Homo sapiens: one gene and its partner. The protein of the gene in region 2 interacts with the protein of the main gene of each other region in a biochemical or structural test. Each region holds a gene or a part of one and is shown on either strand. Other genes may lie near its edges.

Region 1 (3,929 bases), on a different chromosome or scaffold from region 2:
AGCCCCCGGCTTCACTGATACTAATTCACCTGGCTTCAGTGTACATCTCAACATGGAGACCTGAACCAGATATCTGCCATCCTTCCCAGCCACAAGAGCTATAATCCTAAGATTCTGTTCTTTCTATAGCTAACAACTAAAACCGGAATGGCACGCAGAACCACAGTACTTAGAGAAGACTAGGCCAGGAAATTAGAGATGCAGAAGGGAGGAAGATGAGAGGAATATGAGAGAACCGAAGATGTTTTGAAACAAACAGAAAGAAAACTATCCAGGTGTTTGCTTTGACTGGGAATGGAATTAATCCAGAAATCAACTCATATGTGAAGCATCTTAAAATTGCCTGTATTTGACTTGCAAACACTGTGTAAACAATGATAGAATTCCATAGTACCAGGGAATTGGGAACCTTGGAGTACATTCTCAGTGTTGCTGTCTCATTTCTCTCCTTACAATATTAAATTCCAATCTGCAAGCCATTCAGGTGCTTAGTTATTGAATGGATATTTCAAATGTGTCATGATGCTTTCCTGTAGCCTGTTTTCGAATATTCTAATTTATTTTTTGCCATGGCTCCATCACTGAAGGTGGTAGATTGAAGCATTTCTGCCTGCTTTACTTCTGCCAAAGGTTCCTGTTTTCACCTTAGTATACTAAGCTGTTCAGATGCCTCCTGCTAACTGATGAAGAATATAAGGCGCAGAATCTCTCTCCCCAAAGTACTCTGTGCCACAAGGTGCCACTGGCCTAATCTGGCCCAGTCATTTGCCAGGTTTGCAGGGAAAGGTATGACAAAGTTTGCAGCCTATAGACAGAAATAAAGCCTCATTCTAGGCAGAAGTTATTCCTCATCCCACAGATGAGGGATAAGCTAAGGCCAGCCATCATGTCCAGAGCCTAGTAGCTGACATATCCACAGTGTCATCCTTTCTAAAACTCACGAAGCTTTTCTTCTGTTGATGGGCCCCTCAAACTTTGTCCAGTGAGACCAGCAGAGCCATACTGCCAGCAAGGAATGATTCCTGAATGACTCAACTGTGGTCTTATAAACAAACATGTACATCATGCTCAACTGAGTGAGCACAGATGATTTAAAGAAATTATAAAAGCTGATAGGGGCTAAGAAAAATTGCAATTTGCTGGGTGAAGGGAACTTTGCAAGTTTCTTAGGTTTGGTTTTCTGTCACCAATTCTGGAGTTGGCCCTTGGATGGTGGTGGCCAATGCAATTGCCCCAGGTTTTTGCCTTAGCAAAAGGAAAGAAAAAATAACGATAAGAAACAAGCGGGGATCTTGGAGGGGTCAATCCTCTCATTTCACCTATAGAGAAATTGAAGTCTAGAGAGTAGAAATGACCTGCCTAAAACAGACTACTAGCTAACAACAGTGGCAAAACCACAACCCAGTACTGTTTGCTGATACGAAATACATTTTCTGAAGTTCTGTGGAGATCTTCCCAAGAAATCGAGAGGTAACTAAAGTCAAGTTTACCAAGATCACAGCCCTCTACTTCCATTCCATATGTATGTATACGTGTTTATATTATATGCTGCTGTCATATCTTTGTGACTTACCTTCTTGACCACCACCTCCCCCTAACACACACACACTCACACACACAATCCTATCTTGCTAGCTAAGAAAACATTATATGTGTCTATAGCTAGCGTATTCAGATGGAAGGCAGAATTAAACATGACAAAAATTTAGCTGCTCACATTTATGTGTCTGATCTGGCTCACACCACCAACAGCAAGGCATCTAGAAATCCCAGTCTGTTCTGCACCATAGTAGTTTTGGGGAATGGAAGCTAGCAGAATCCAGTGACTATGGCTCTGGTTTAGTATACTCAGTCTCAGAATCAGCCCCCCAAATGCATGTGCAAATACACACACATGCACACACACACAAACATGCACATACAGTCACACTCTTTCCGAAAAATTAAAACAAAGAAAATAGAAAAGATAAGGCAGGTGGTTTTTAGAGCAGAGTACAAGAAGAAGGAAAGGTTTGCAGACGGATATTCTTACCTTCCCCCATTCTTTAGCCTTATTGCCTAATTTTCATTAATCCCACCCTAATTTATTTTAGGATCTGAGAAAATAGAGCAATGCAAACATGTTTACTACAGCCCAGAAGGATGATCTGAAAAACCTCCACATTTGAGTGAGAATATCACAAGGATAGGGAAAAGGCTAGGATGTAGTGAGCTAGAGCCTTGCTACTCCAAGTGTAGTCCCCACACCAGGATTGCCACCATCCCCTGGGAGCTATCTATAAATGTAGAATCTCAAATCCTTCCCCAGACCGACTGAATAAGAATCTGCATTTTATGAAGATCCCCAGTGATTCATTTTTATACTAAAATTTGAGAAGCACCGGGCTAGAGCTTATCCAAAAAGCATCTGAAAGATATTTGAAAATAAACAATTACCTACTGAGCATGTAGGGACAATTCATGTGGCTTATCAATTAAAAAATAAAATATAAACTTTTTCCAGGTCCACTTATCTTATTATTCACTGTAAAACCCTTCAGTGTGGGCAAGAGAGTTCATGTAAAGGGAGTGAGATCATAGGATTTGTTTATTTACCAGGACGACTTGGGTGTGGGAACTCACACAGACCTGAGTTCAAATCCTGGCCCTGCTCACGAATTACTAGCTGTGTAAACATGCACTTTGCCTCTAAGCCTCACAGTCCCCATCTATAAAATGGGATTAATAATAGTACCAACTGGCACTGGGCTGTCATGAAAAATTAAATAAGACCGTATAATGCACTGGGATATGGTGAACAATCAATAAATAGAAGATATAATTCATACGATTTGGCTAATAATTTTAGTTTGGTAGAAAACCAACCACTAGATGTGATATATTGGGGCACCTAGCATTATTTCTAATTGACGTGAATCTTACTGGGTTTTCTACAGATAGAATGCTAAGATATACAACAGTAAAATATATTTAAATATGATGGAGGCCACTAGAAACAAATATTTTTTCAGAAGGAATTACAGGTGTCCCTAGTGAAATCACTCCATGGAAGAAGACTGAAGTCAGAAGTGGCCCTGTTCTATGAAGCATATCTCAAAATATTACCAAGTTAGAAAGTCAAAAGTGAGGCATTTTCTGCATGTTTGCATATATATGCAGCATGAAAACACACACATACATACACACACACGGACGCATCATTTGATGGACAAATTATAAAATAATTCAAGGCCAAAATGACATTCTAGGAGCAGAACTAGGTTTCTGCCTGATAAAATCTTTAAAATGCACAAATAATAACCTCTACTTCGTAACTTGCTCATGTTGCACAGTTTAATGGCTTAGGTATATACTATAGCTATTACTATTTTGTAGGTGAAAAAAAAAGAGCAACTCCTACCTCTTCCCAGCCCATGGTGCTACCTACCTGCTCAATTTTCTCACCAGTAAAATATGATACACGTAGTACTCATAAAGTCCAAGAAATCACCAGGCACTTGATTCTATAAAGACTTATTGACTGGCATGTGCAATCTGGGCAACCTGATTGTAAAGACACAGAGACAGACACTACCACCTCTGGATCCCAGTCCTTTGGTATGTTCCAGACCTCCAGCTTCCCCTGATTTTCAATAGTATCAGATTAGTAAGGTATCAATAATCTTATAATAGACAATATTTATATCTAATTGCTAAGATTTCTGTGATCACCCTAAATAAACAATAGCACGTGTTATCAATTATTGACTATCTTTATATTAGTTTTCTATTGCTGCCATAACAAATTCTCACAACCTTATCAATTTAAAACAACACAAATTTATTATCGTTATAGTTCTGTAGTTCTGAAGTCTGACACAGGGATCACTGTGCTAAAATCAAGGTTTCAGCAGGACTGCCTTCCCTTCTGGAGGCTCTAGCAGAGAATC
Region 2 (3,929 bases):
TCAGAGAATGTTTATTAAAATTGTTAAATATGTTAATAATCAAAATTAAGGAAAACAATAACTTTTATCTACTGAACTATATGGAATTGTTTACTATGGGTTCTTTGTAACTTCATCCCATTACATTTGGACCAAACACAGATTGCAGAAGAATGAGAATCAGCAAAGTAGACAATGTGTCCAATGAGAGCACTAATAATGATAACATAGATGATCATCATGAACACCATATTTAAATTATTTGAATTTCAGCCCTCTTATTAATATACCACAAGGCTACCTTTTTATTGATGTACTTTGGAACTAGTCCTGAAGGCTCAAGATCATGCTTGTCTCCAGTTCTTTTATCAACATAAATTGGTTTAGGCTTTTTAGCCACTCCCATGATGATATCAGCTGCATTTGTATTTATAAAATTTTTTCCACTCTGTATTCCCATGACAGGATGATCAGTCTTCAATGGCACAGCAGGCTTTTTGGGCACGTTCCGATCAAAGTTTTTTTCTGTTAAATATAACATTTCTTTGTTAATATTAAACTACAAACACTGCTACTCAGTGCTATTTATAATATCCAGATATTTCACCACTTGTATATTGAAGTTGCAGTCATAATATATTTAAATATTTAAGATAGAAGTTTATGCTTACCCCCAAACTCATTGACTTGTAGACATTAAATATGCACAGCTTTTTACCTGTCAATCAGGCCTCAATAAAATAATTTTTTAAAAAGAAAAAAAGTCAGTAATTAAAATGGAAATAAATTAAGGGCAACATAATCAATTAATATGTTGAGGAGGCCGGGCACGGTGGCCCACGGTGACGTGGGCAGATCGCTTGAGCTCAGGAGTCTGAGACCAGTCTCGGCAACACAGTGAAACCCCATCTCTGCAAAAAATGCAAAGTTAGCCAAGCATGATAGTGTGCACCCTTAGTCCCAGCTACTCAGGAGGCTGAGGTGGGAGGATTGCTTCAGCCTGGGAGGCGGAGGTTGCAGTGAACCGAGATCATGCCATTGTACTCCAGCCTGGGTGACGGAGTGAGACTCTGTCTCAAAAAAGATCATATATGTGTGTGTGTGTGTGTGTGTATATATATATATATGAACAGTATATAAATACAAGGAAGAAGTATTTCTTGCTTATTGGCCGTTTTTACACAGCCTCTTCAGTTTGATCATTCCCATTGATCTATTTTAATATAGCCAAATGGTTTGCCACAATGCAAAAATGTGAAATAATTTATTTTTAAGAACTGAAAGCAACAACTGTCTTGAAAATGCCTTTTCCAATTTTAACCCCATCACAATTACTAAGGACTGACTTTATTCATTTCTGCATCATTTGACCTTTTTTATTAGTTTATATAACTTTTATTATCAGCAAAGCCAATACTTACAGTTAAAAGTCTATGAACTGGATTAGCCTCTTGTTAGGGGCTGAGTTATGTCCTCCTAGAATTCATATGTTGAAGCCCTAACCCCCAGTATCTCAGAATATAACTGTATTTGTAGAAAGGTCTTTAAAGAGGTAATTAAGTCAAGATGAGGTCATTAGAGAAGGCGCTGATCCAATATGACTGGTGTCCTTAGAAGAGGAAATTTGAACACAGACATACATATAAGGAAGAACACGTAAAGATACAGAGAAAAGATAACCATCTACAAGCCAATGAGAGATGCTTTAGAAGAAACCAACCCTGCTGCGTGTGGTGTTGCATGCCTGCAGTCCCAGCTACTTGGGAGGCTGAGGCAGGAGGATTGCTTGAAGCCAGGAGTGTGAGGCTGCAGTGTGCTTTCATCATGCCTGTGAATAGCCACCACACACTCCAGCCTGTGCAACATAGACCCTATCTCCAAAAATAAAAACAAACAAAAATACTCCTAAAAAAGAAAAGCAAAAATCAACTAATCCTCTGACATCTTGATGTTGGACTCCTAGTTCTCCAGAACTGTCCTCCAGAACTCTCATTGGACCGAGTTTTTAAAGCTTTTGCAAAACCCTGCATTCCTTTTTTTTTTTTTTTTCCTCTTTTTTTGAGACAGGGTCTCCCTCTGCCACCCAGGCTGGAGTGCAGTGATGCAATCATAGCTCACTGCAGCCTCAACTTCCTGGGCTCAGGTGATCCTCCCACCTGAGCCTCCCATATAGCTGGGACCACAGATGTGCATCAGCACACCTAGCTAATTAAAAAAAATTTTTTATAGAGATAGGGTCTCACTTTGTTGCTCAGGCTGGTCTCGTACTCCTGGGCTAAAGCAGTCCTCCTGTCTTGGCCTCCCAAAGTGCTGGGATTGCAGTCATGAGCCACTGTGCCCAGCCCTAATACCCTGAATTGATGAATTATTCTAAAGGCCAATGAAATTTTGGGTTTGCTTTTGCCTTACAATGTTTACAAAATGATAGGCTTCTTCCTTTTTTCTTATTTGACACAAAGGATTTATATATATATATATATATGTTTGTGTTATATCATATGTTTAACCCTAGAGAGGCTATATGAGGACCCAAGGGATACCAGTGGTCCTAAGGCATTGAAAGCATCAAATTCCATTTTAACATTTTCCTATATTCTCAAATGGTATTGTTGGTCATAGAATGCTGGGTCACAACAGGCCAAGACTAGAGGAAGATACAAAAGAGACTTCTGAAGTCACGAATTAAGCATGAATGTTGTATTTCCACACTTGCTTCTTCCATCTTGCCATCTTGCCTGATAGTGCCCTCACCTTTTTTCATGAGATATGGGTTGAGAGAGGATTTGGGGACATTAAATACTGCCATAAAGAGAAGTAGTTTCACTTTTGTTAAAATGTACATCGCTAGCCGGGCTTGAGATGTTGCATTATTTCCTCAATGCCAGCAGACATAAAAAGCCAACATTTTGAAGAGACAGACTCGTTTCTTTTTTCTTTTCTTTTCTTTTCTTCTCTTCTCTTCTCCTCTCCCCTCCCCTCCCCTCCCTTCCCTCTCTCCCTCCCTTCCTTCCTTCCTCTCTCTCTCTCTCTCTCTCTCTTTCTTTTTTTGAGATGGGGTCTCACTTTGTTGTCCAGGCTAGAAGGCTGTGGCTTGATCATAGCTCACTGCAGTTTCGAACTCTTGGGCTCAAGCGATCCTTCCACATCAGCCTCCAGAGTAGTGAAGACTACAGGTGCATGCCATCACACCTAGCTAATTTTTTTTATTTTAATTTTTTTGTACGGACGGGGTCTTGCTTTGTTGCCCAGGTGCTCTCTTTTCTTTATTGCCCTAAGACATCTGGGAAGACATACTTGGGCTATGAAGAAATTGCTTCCATACATACCTGTCACACATCACTTTTCATCTACTCTCCCTTTCCCTGATAGCTTTCTTTCCTGAAATCATTCAAAAGACTCCATAACTGGGATCAAGTATATAATTTTTGAGGCCCAGTAAAAAATAAAAACACAAGGCTACTTGATCAAAAATTAAAAATTTTAGTACAGCAAGAGCACAGCATTAAAATAAGCATGGGGCCCTAAGCTGGTTCTACCACTTATTCATGAAGTCTCCTCCATTACATCTAACTCATTGCAGTCCAGTTAGTCTTAAAGGTCTGGGAGAGTAAAAGCCCGTACTCAAAATGAGCCCAGTAGTTGCTTCAACAACTGGTAGTAATGGTTGTAATTTTCATCTCTTGGAGAAAAGGCCAGACAGGGTTTAGATGCTGGGCAATCTTGCCCATTAGTCAGATACTGTCCCTGGGGTCTTGACTTTTCCTATAATTGTTGTTTATAATTGAAGCCCCACAGCTAGGGACTAAGATGGTGATGCATGTGGGCTTCATTGGATAGTCCAAACCCAATCTAAAGTCTATTCTGGGGGCAATTTATCACACTCCATTCTATTTTTCTACCCAATTCTCTACTTCCACTTTCTCCTAGTCAAATTCTGTTTAATATGAGGT

What was found.
Region 1: the proteins of ENKUR (region 2) and TRPC5 form a complex in vitro, tested with the Homo sapiens proteins (one study listed by BioGRID).

Annotation. Positions count from the first base shown.
Region 1 is NC_000023.11:112,075,899-112,079,827, reverse strand, and holds part of TRPC5 (short transient receptor potential channel 5), read left to right. Parts: intron 1-3,929. UniProt on the Homo sapiens protein: Forms a receptor-activated non-selective calcium permeant cation channel. Mediates calcium-dependent phosphatidylserine externalization and apoptosis in neurons via its association with PLSCR1.
Region 2 is NC_000010.11:24,995,366-24,999,294, forward strand, and holds part of ENKUR (enkurin), read right to left. Parts: intron 505-3,929; coding exon 281-504; intron 1-280. UniProt on the Homo sapiens protein: Adapter that functions to localize a calcium-sensitive signal transduction machinery in sperm to a calcium-permeable ion channel.